Linked DNA regions of Homo sapiens: region 2 is linked to region 1. The links come from fine-mapping of genetic effects on gene expression. A gene starts in region 1. The other region holds a variant in brackets. All regions are shown on one strand. Distances are from middle to middle. Region 1 holds the start of MAP1B (microtubule associated protein 1B). Region 2 overlaps MAP1B (microtubule associated protein 1B).

Evidence for each region. PIP is the estimated chance that this variant, and not a neighbour inherited with it, causes the effect. A credible set is the group of variants that fine-mapping cannot tell apart.
Region 2: its variant is the best candidate, but not a certain one, in a credible set for the expression of MAP1B in iPS cells (PhLiPS, PIP 0.70).

The regions. Positions count from the first base shown.
Region 1 is chr5:72,104,638-72,110,165 of GRCh38, reverse strand. It overlaps MAP1B (microtubule associated protein 1B), which reads right to left and starts at 2,691. Exons shown (of 7, transcript NM_005909.5): 1 at 2,451-2,691. The coding sequence starts at 2,634. LOC105379028 (a long non-coding RNA gene) reads left to right here. Exons shown (of 3, transcript XR_007058813.1): 1 at 1-1,391; 2 at 2,179-2,241. RefSeq lists enhancers at 1,090-1,384, 1,790-2,772.
Region 2 is chr5:72,204,967-72,209,966 of GRCh38, reverse strand. It overlaps MAP1B (microtubule associated protein 1B), which reads right to left. Exons shown (of 7, transcript NM_005909.5): 7 at 402-4,883. The coding sequence ends at 4,728. Among named protein-coding and RNA genes, the nearest start is that of MIR4803, 38 kb to the right of the region's middle. The variant AAAAAAAAAAAG/G (reference allele first, on the strand shown) is at 1,994.

The sequences.
Region 1 (5,528 bases):
AGGCGTGTCCGTTTTGTGAAAATTCGTTGAGCTGCTCATCTTTGATTTGTGCCCTTTCCTCTCTATATAATACTTCAACCGAATTTTTTAAAAAATTAATGTCAAGAAGACAAATCTGAATTTTGTCACTAAGTGCTAGTAGTGTAAAAACGAGTAAAGGCAGGGAGCCCTTCTTCATAGCAGTACGTGGATGCGTCTGTTTTCTCCATAAATAGATGCAGCTTGTATAAACCCTCTGAGGAATAGGGCGCTGAAAGGATGATCAGATGAGTAACAAAGCAGGAAGATAATTACGATCCGAAGGTGATTGCTGAACCATCTCCCAGCATGGGGCGCTGCCCACAAGTGGATGGCCATACAAAGGCAAGCCCTGAAAACTGTTGTACTGAAACCTTCCTCCCATCATAGGATGTTAGCCAACCCTGCACTAACATCATGACAGGGTCAGAAAACGAGTGACGCTGCAGTACTGGTACTTCTGTCACTTATGAGTGCTGTGACCTTGAGCCGGTTCTCTTACCCTTCCTGCCTCTCTGGGCCCCCAGCTCTAAAACGGGGTTGATGATCCCTCTCCTAGCACCACCACATCGAATGGTTATGAAGATTTTGTAGATAGAAAAGCACCTCCTAATATATTCCTATTTCCCAGAAATGCTACTTACAAATAATTTTTTAAAGAAAAAAATCCAAAGTCATTGATTCCCACAATAGCCACACCCAAAGTCAGTATGTGTAAAATTTTTCCAGGAGAAAATTGTGCAAATAAACTAAATTAGAACAGATTAGACCAAAGGCCTATATAGTCTGAAAATGAAGGGTTATTGAGATGCTCAAATAAGACATTTCACTACTGAAATATCTCTTGTTCTTGAATTTTTTGGAATAAAATACTATGACTTTCTGCTCACATTTTTTTTCTTTTTTTTTTTTAAGCTAAAAGGGAAAATCAAGTGCTTTAAAGTTAAACAAAAGAACCAGGTCTGCAACTCCAGTCCCCACCCTGCAGCCTTTTGTTCTGGGGACAAGTGGCCGTTTCCAACTGCAGAGGCAGATGACAAGCATTTATTTTTTCATCTAAAACAAGGTTTTTCTTTCGTCTTTTATTGGGGAGGGGGAGTGGGGAACGAGGGCTGCGTGAACGCCCTTTGTCCGCCTCGGGCTGCCGTAGAGACCGCAGTGCGGACTGCACCACGCCCACCAACCGGTGTCTCCCGGAGAAACGCTTCAGCACCACCCCAGGAGAATAGAGCGCGGGCTGGGGCTGCGGAGGGACCCGGCGACCTCTGTCAGGAGCGAGGGGAGGGCCGGGACGCCAGGGATAAAGGGAAAGGCAGAGACCAGAGCTGCCCACCCAGGGACTCCCAGGGCAACAAAGCCAGGCAAACTGAGAGGTGGGGGCGCGCGGCCCCCGCCAGCCCGAGGCCCGGGCGGAGCGCAAGCCCAGCCAGCCGTGCCCGACGGGGGCGCCGCAGTGTGGGGGGGCAGGTGTGGCGGGCGGTCCGGAGGCACTGCGGCAGCTCGGGTGGGGCTGGGGGCGGTCTCTCTGTGCGCCCGAGGCTGTGCCCGCCGGACCCTCACGGCCCCGCCCAGGGTCCCCGGCGTACCGCTATTCGGCCTCCGCAGAGCGCGCCACTGGTGCGAGCACCGGGCGAGGAGCTGACCCTACCCGCTGACGTCTCCCTCACCGACCCCCTTCAAGCTACCACTCCCGAGGCTGGGACTTCTAAAAGCAGCAGCCCCACCCCGCAACTTGGGGTCCCATTGTCCTTTCTGAGAGCTGCAGCCAAGGCCCCAAGGGCGGTAGCGAGGCGGGCTCTGTCTGGTGGCGAAGCGCAGGCGGTTCTGCATCCCAGCATCTCCCCGGGGAGGGGGGGGCGGGGGGAGCGGGCGTGGCCCTAGGACTAGCCTAGTCATTCTGAGGAAAGAAAGGATCGGGAGGTTTGAAATCAGAAAAGGCGTTTCTCAGGGGCTGAGGTAGCCGTGGTGAGGATGAATCCCACGCGGGCCCTGGCACATGGGCTTCGGCCCCAGGTCTGCGGTGGTGGGGGTCCCAGCCTTTTCCTGAGGCCAGAAGAGGACTGAAAGGAGTGGTTGCATCAGGTCTCCCCCACCCTTCTGCCTCCTGCGGTTGCGGCTTTATTGTGGCCTCTGCTCCCCTGACACCTGCATTTCACTTAGCGGGAGAGGCGGTGGCCAACTCAGCACAGGCTGCGGACTCAGCGTGGTGACAGATCCCTCAAGGTTATTGGAGACTCTCCCTCTGGGTCTCATATCTAATAATTCGGATTATTCTTAATTAGCCCAGAAAGGGTCTGGACCAAGTATGAGAGGTGACGAGGAGAGGCATGGGTGCGGGGCGCGCGGGAGGAGCGCAGTGACCGTCGCGCCCTGGGTGGGGTCGTGTTTGCGCGTCTCCCAGCGCGCGTCTCTGGGGGCGCGGGGCCACTTACCGAGCTCGATGTTGCCGATGGCACGCCGCAGGTGCTCCTCGGTCACGATCTCGCCGACGACCACCAGCAAGTAGAACTTGCTGTCAAGGAAGCGGTGCGACAGGCTAGGCGAGGTGGACGCCGCCGGGTTGGCGATGCTGCCGGACGGCTCCGGCTCGGTGGCTTCCACCACCACGGTCGCCATCCTGCCGGCTGCTGTGCCTCGGCGAAGTGTCTCGCTCCGGCCGCTCCTCTCCACTGCGGCAGGAGAAAGGATTATCTCCGAAGGTACTGTCTCCGCTCCGCCCCCTGCGTCCCCCCTCCTCTGGCGCCGCGCGCCGCCTCCCCCTCCGCCCTCTCCCAGCGCCGCGGAGAGTGCGCGGCGGAGAGGAGCGGGGAGTGAGAGAGGGCGGGGAGGCGGCGCCGCTTTTATATGGAGACTAGGCAGGGAGCCGGGAGGAGGAGGAAGAGGAGGAGGAAAGGACCACCCGGCACATCCTCACGCGGTGGCTGCCTCCGCTCTTCCAGCCGTTGGCCCGGGGCTGATGTCATCTGCAGCAAATCATCTCGCCCGCGGCCCGGAAGCTGGAGGGACGAGGTGTGCGGACAATGGTCGGGGCAGGGCCGCGAGCCAAGGGGCTGGGGCGCCCGCTGAGCTCCTGCTGCAGCCGTGAAGGGGGAAGACGCTCTCAACCTACACCACCCACCACGTACACACCCACTGCCCACTCCTCACCCTCACCCTGTCTGTGCATGGGAATGGGATGAGTTTCCATTTTCGGAGTGGGGGTCTTTTCTCTTGTTGGAGTTGCACTAGTCAGGCCTCTGCCTTGTGTGCTGTGTATGATGTAGCCAGGTTCTCAGGAACTGGGATAGCCACAGTGGGCAGATGCGGGGCTGTGGGTACCCCGCCTAGGAAGACGGAACCTGTCTTTTCTTTGACCTTGTGGCTTTAAGAAGACGAATTTACTGATATTTACCAATATCAATATTTACCACCTTCACTTAAAGAATACATCAAAAATGCAAAACTTAAGCCTACTATTGTTCAGGCCTTGGATTCTACTCTGGCAGGGCCAAGGATGAAAAAGTACTGGCTTTGTGGTGCTCATGGGAAATGAGAGAAATGCAGATGTATTATATTAGATACCAATTTCTTTCCTTAATGTGCTGAACAGATAGTATCAGTAATAACAAAGAATAAAGAGAAGATACTGTCTCTACTCAGCAGGGTTACAGTGACTATAATGTACTTTTCAGTTCCTTGGGGAACACACAAGCAAAATTACCTCGTGACAATGATGTCTTTTAAAATACCTGTAGCATTGGGAATTTTTATTGCCTTTGTTTGTGTTTAGAAGAACTAAAAAATGTGTTTTTTGTTTTTGTTTTTTTGTTTTTTTTTTTAAGGCAGCCTATTTACAACCGTTTCTCACAAACATACTGAATATAGCTTCTGTCCCAGAAAAGGGGAGGAGGGTGAGGAAAGAGCAAAATGTGCAAACATGGTATCATAGAAGACTGGGGAATTCGAGCTTTAAGGAAGAGGAATAGATGGAAATTAGTCAACATAGCTTTAATACTAGAATGCCTGTTAGTAAAATATAGATGATAGATAGATAGATAGATAGATAGATAGATAGATAGATAGATAATCACCTAGATATTCTTAAGATTTCCAAAATAACCCAGTGTCTTAGGTGTTAGCTGCCATGACTTATTGGTCATGTACTCTTTGCTCTTATATCTTTCCTGACACCCTGGCATGGGAGACATGCTGGGCAGCCAAGGGCTGGGGGGTTCCATCCAACATGTCAATCTGATCAATGCAGAATGAAAATACCGTCTGGCCCGCAGTATTTGGGATCTGTGACAGGATCACTAGAGAGTTGCATTCACCAGTAATTAGATGAAGTGTTTCCAACTAGCTGCATTCACCAGTAACTAGATGAAGTGTTTCCAGATAATATTTTGGTTAAGATATTCAATTGCTGTTCAAGAAGTAAGGCCAGCACCAAAGCCCATAACTGGGGTGAGGGGCAGGAAATATGGTGAAGAGCACTGTTTTCTAAAGGTCATCCGTTGGATTCCAGCCTCATCTAGTTTGTGTTTGGTTTTCCTTTCTTTGAACCATTGTTACTTTTATGTATGTAATAGTTTTCTTTTATGCAGTTTATTTCTTTTACTTAAATTTATTTTTAAATGCAATTCTATGTTGCTGTATAAATGGAAACACTAATATCACTTATTAATAGAAAGTATCCCTAAAAATATACACAATGAAGATAAGATGTGATCAAATTCCTGCTACATACTGTTATGATTTGCTCAAGACTCTGAGTCCAAGGCTCTCCTTTCTTGGTTGAAAACAGAGATTGGCCAAGTGTTAGAGAGGTATTAAAGAGATACTAACACCTAACTGAGTTGTTCTCCATGTTGCAACAGAAGATTGGATGAAAATTATAACAGAGCGCTTTCTTACTGTGTGTGTCTGTGCAATTAAACACCATGACCGTGACCACCTAAGTCATCACCCACACTTTGAAAAATAGAGGCATAATGGGAGAACACAGACTAGGGATGCAGAATACTACTTTACAGCTCGGTAACTTTGGCAAGTGACTTACTCTTTTTGATCTTCCATCTCCTTATTTAATGAGAAGAAGAACATCTTTATAACTGTTAAAGTAACTGTAAGAAAGAAGGAAATGATAGAATGTGTAAGCACCTAATACAGTGGCTGGGCATAGTAAGCAATCAAGGGATGGTTGATTCATTGACCTGTTTTCTCCCAGTTACTAAGACAATGGAGCAAAAGCAGTCTTATAAAATGTGCAAGTGATACTGCTACAACACCTCTGAAACAAGAACAGAATATTACATTATTATACTTCAATACTAGAAAAGTAGCCCCTTCCCCTCTTCATCCCAAGAAAATGTATACAGTTCTAAGGAGGAAAAAGGGGGAAAACTAACATATAAGAGCACCAATATTGCCAGCTGCTCAACTGACATCACCTGGATATACCAAAGGCACCAGAATCTTGACATGCTCCAAACCCAAATCATCTTTTACCTCTAAACGGGATCCTCTCTCAT
Region 2 (5,000 bases), 100 kb before region 1:
GGCACAATCATGGTTCACTACAGCCTTGAACTTCCGGGCTCAAATGATTCTCCCACCTTGGCCTCCCAAAGTACTGGGATCACAGGCATGTAGCACTGCACCCAGCTATCCTTTTTTTTTTCTTTTTTTTAAGCAATAATTTTAATTGTTCCTTCCCTTCACCTCCCAGTTTCTGTCCTTACACGCTCACATCCTCTAGAGCTTGGCTATAAAAGTTAACGAGGTAGCAGTTGCAAGCATTAGCAAGATGCTTTCGGCAGTTTGCCAAAAGCCAGGGAGCCCATCTTGAAAAGAACGTAGTCACCCCCTGCCGTCATGCCCTGACTGCCCAGCATTCTGCGTGAGTGGCAAAGCCCAACTCAGGAACACAAAGCAAAAGACAGCACAGCACACACATGAACTTTTGCCACTTTTGTATTTTATTGTGGAACTGAGTTTTTTTTTTTCCTTTACATCAAATATCCTCAATGGAAGAGGGGATATTGCACACAAATATCATAAAAGCACTACATATTACTTTCACTGGAAACTAATTTTCTACATTAGATATGACTGGATAGGATAGAAGTGATGCAGGATTATAAGACATAATACCATACACAGCTGCAGACTGACACAAACACCATTCAGAACAAGAGAGAGGAGTGTGAAGTGCTTCTCAGCTGGGCTCAAGACCACTTCTTTCCAGTGCTGGAAAGAGGGGCTGCATGCAGTGTAGGAAAAGCGTGTCTCTGAACTGCCACAGGGTGTTCTCGAAAGGGCAGCCCGGTCTTGATGCCACTTCTCCATGGCTCCTGTTTTGGGGAGCTCCAAACAAGTGCAGAGAAGCTGCCTATTTTTTCCCTTCCTTTTCAGTTTTTGATGCTGCCTTTAAAAATCAACTTCATGAAGTCACAGATTTTTTAACAGTAAATAGTTTTAATACCAGGTGAATAACCTAATTGCTTTCAAAGAAATGCTCATCCCTAGGCTGCTTTTGGTGTATTGTTCAGTTGGTTAAAAGATAAAAGCTTACAGTTCCTTTCAAATGGAAACAGGATCTTTTCTTCTAAATCTGAAGCACAAAAAAAAAAAGTTATTATCCTAACTCACAATATCATTACTGAGCAGGAACCTCCTGTGACAGGTGACTAAAGAGAGGCAAGAAAAGCAAATTCAGAATTGTAGAGCAGCTCCTAAGAGCTGAAATTTGGTAACAGAGGGAAAATGAAAGGTGGTAAGATTTCCATTAGCAAATGATTAAATCTTAATTAAATGAGTATTGGAAAGCTCCTAGACTGCATAAGCTATTGGAGACACTTAAAACATTCATATACACTGGGGAAACCATTCACTATGATATGTAACGTTAAGAAAAAAAATTTTTTTGAACTCCATGGAAAATGGTGTTTAAAGAGGGGAGGAGGGGAAGTTAGTCATTGTATCCAGTCCCACCACAAGACTGAGAAAGCATGCACAGGGCTCAGGGTTTTGAGAAAGGGGACAGAATTGGTTAAAATTGAAAATGGAGGATCATCGCTAACATTTAGTCTCTGTAGAATTTTGTTTAAGAATACTACCAAAAAGGTCATGATCATGAGTGCTATCTCGATAGAATCCCATCATTTAAACAGAGTGTAAATTCCTTCCACTCAAATATTCAATCTATACAATTGGATTAAGTAATCAGTATGAACAAAGCTCCTAGAAGTCTGTGTCGATCTTTAGCTCTCACCATGAATGTACATGGTACATTGTGATGGCTGTTACTAAACTAATCGTGTATTTATGGAACTAGCAAAATTAGGTTAGTCACACAGGCAGGAAAGGTGTCTGGAAGGACAGGAGCAACCTGTAATGCGAATATTGGTTTTCTTGGTATACTCAGGCTCTGTGGTCATATTGAGAACAACGGATGGAGAAAGGTACTGATAGATTTCATAGGAAAAAGAGCCAGCTGACTAGTGACAGTTTTTACATATTTTTCCCATTAAATCCCATAGCAAAAAAAAAA[AAAAAAAAAAAG/G]AGAGAGAGAGAGAGAAAGTGAGGAGGGTGGAGTGGTTATAACTGAAGACTGGCTATAATTCTCCTACAATGTTTATAGTTTTTAAAGCAAAATAATGTTCAGGTTAAATACATTTAATTGTGAAATTGGAAAATAACTTGCATCTTCTGTCAAAGAAAAATCAACCAGAGGTCTGGATTTGGCAAGAAGGCTAAAAATCTGGTTTTCTTCCCACGCATTATGTAGACCAATTCAACTTAAGAGCTAACCATTAAATAATTATCTTGAGTATCTTAGGTTGTGTTATAAAATAAATTTGAAGTAGATGAGTTTATACTCAATGAAATTCATTGGCGTCACAATGACTTTTCCATCATGTGTTAATTTCTTGTACCCTTAATATGTTATTTTCCAAGGACTTGAAAGAAATGGGGTAATAAATAAAAGCTGCATTTCTAGAGAAGCCTAACAAAAATAGAATATTAATTTTCTTTAAAAAATTAAACATTTGAAAAATGTAATTCACAGCATTAAGTAGACTGCATAGGTCCTCAGTGAAAGGACCCTGAAGAAGCATTTTTTTAAACCCTCATCATAGTTAGCAGTGCAAAACATAGACTTATCAGACAAAAATCAACTAAAATGTTAATTTTGAAATAAATAACTAACATAGAAAATAAAATGAGGTCATTGTTCTCTACTCCGTAGATCTTAGAGTCTGCAGGAAATGTAATGTGACAGAGCACAGCACAGTTGTCACGGAGAAGTTTGCCTCATCTGAACACTGGGTGCATTGATCTGCAACTTGAAACTTGATGTCAGTGTTAATCATGATCTGGCTTCCCAGGTTCACAGTTCAATGATGACAATGATGGAAATTTTCTCTAAACTCTACATGAACCGTAGGAGTTGAGAATTCATTTGTTTTCAATGTACTATTTCTTTTATTTTTTTTTTCCAGAAAAGAAAATCCCAAAGCAAATTTGTGCTAGGGTTCTTTGAACTTGGCTCTTTTACCTCATGGTTGAAGATCTTGAAAGAAGTATGTAGGATACCACTGGGTGATGTACTTGTCAAGGCCCTGAAAAGTAGCCTACCATGCCATTCTCCCCCACTCTCAAGTAGCACTTTTATGTTATGGGAATCAAGGGGTGGGAGGTATCATTATTCCTGGTAGTTATGGGTTTTTAATAAATATCATTACTGCAATATCAGACTTCAATCTTGCCAGAACTTCAAAAAACATTATTCAATTTTTGTCTTACGAAACACTTAAAAAAAAAGACTATCACTTGAGAATTTTCTTTGCAATTTCCTGTAAATGAAAACATTTGTTAAAAAGTTCATCTATGAAAAGTTCTCACATATCTTAAAAAAAAAATTCTTCTGTACACTTGTTCCCATAATTATGTTGAAATTAATGGAAAATTTAAAAAGCCAATGTAAGACAAAGGAAGGTAAATACTGTACACTTGCTGAGAACCTCTTCCACCATAAGATTCACTGTTTTCCCAGTTCTGATCATAGAAGCCATTTCAGTCTTGAACTTGCAGTAGTAAAGAAGCTGTGAAAGGCACAACTTGTTTGACTGAGAGGCCACAGGTGCACTGAAGTGGGATTCAACACGCATGACTCAGCATCAAACTGTTGGACCAATCAGATCAGCTTCTAGTACCCCCACACACGCTCACCCACGTGTTCCTTTAAGTATCTATAATCCTATATGGATGTTTTATAAACTTGCTGTCTCACATTAAAAAATAAGTGCATCAAGTATCTTTGTACATTCAAGTCACTTCCTAAGGCAAATTGTCTACCATATGTACTCCCAACTGCTTTGGTATTTGCTTCAGTTAATTGGGGTGGACTTGGGTGTTGCTGCATGCAGGTTAATCGACTCAGAGTGGACTAAGTGGGTGGACAAATGCTGGGAGCATGCCTTAGATCAATCTACTTGTGTGTTTAGAGTCTGAGAGTTCTGAATGGGGCCCAAACCACTTGCATGGCCAGTCTACACTCACTACATTATGTCAGTGTGCAGCCTTCAAACTGAAGGAGCTTAATTAAGATGTGAAAATATCACATGCCCTCATAACAAGTGTTGTTCTTTTTACTTTCTTCTAGCCAACTTGTTTTAGAAAATTAAGACTCTTTTTGATGACTCAGACTGACAAAAATGGAAAACTTTGCCTATGTAGACTAAAGAATGCCTACTGCCTGAGAAAATGCAGACCTAATTGTTGGTTTATTTTCTCCTCCTTACCCCACCCTGCTCTCTCTTTTTCTCTCTGGGTATCTCACCAGAACTCTCTGTCATTACATCTCCTTCTCTTGCATTCCTTTTCTTTCTCATTCTTTCTCTCTCTCTCTCCTGCGTTATCTTTGTGCTCTCACTCTCTCTCACTCTCTCCCGCGCTCTCTCTCTCTCTAAGACAAATGCCTCTACCTAGCAGAAGTCAGTTGGGTTGGCTAGTGCATGGTTTCCAAATGTTCAGCAGAGATGAACTGGGGTAGGTAATTTTGCAGGAATTTGAACCCTATTGTGGAAATACTGTTATTTCCCTTAGCAATCAGCAAAAACTGAGAAATTTAGTGACTTGCATCACCATGACACAGTATAGCATTTGGCAGGTAATTGTTCAGCGACTTAACTAGATGAATTGACTTTTTAGAAAAGGTGATTTCAAATTGAAGAATTTCTGGAAACAAAGTTCAGATCCTGTGGTGTGGCTGGCCTTGGTTTTTACAGTTCAATCTTGCATGCAGGGAAGGATTCATCTTGCATAACCACTGTGCTGCTGCTTGCTAAAACCATGATGTTGAGATCTTGCTGTTTCTCATGGGTCTCCTGGTACCATTCCCTCATCACTTCTGAGTCATGAGTTGGGATCAGTGTCACCTGCAGGGAGAGAAAAAAAAAATAGCTATTTAAGGGCAGAAACAGAAACCATATGAAAAAAATTGAATAGCAAGGTATTAGACCACTGGAAGAAGAAGGGAAATGAGAGAAAACTTT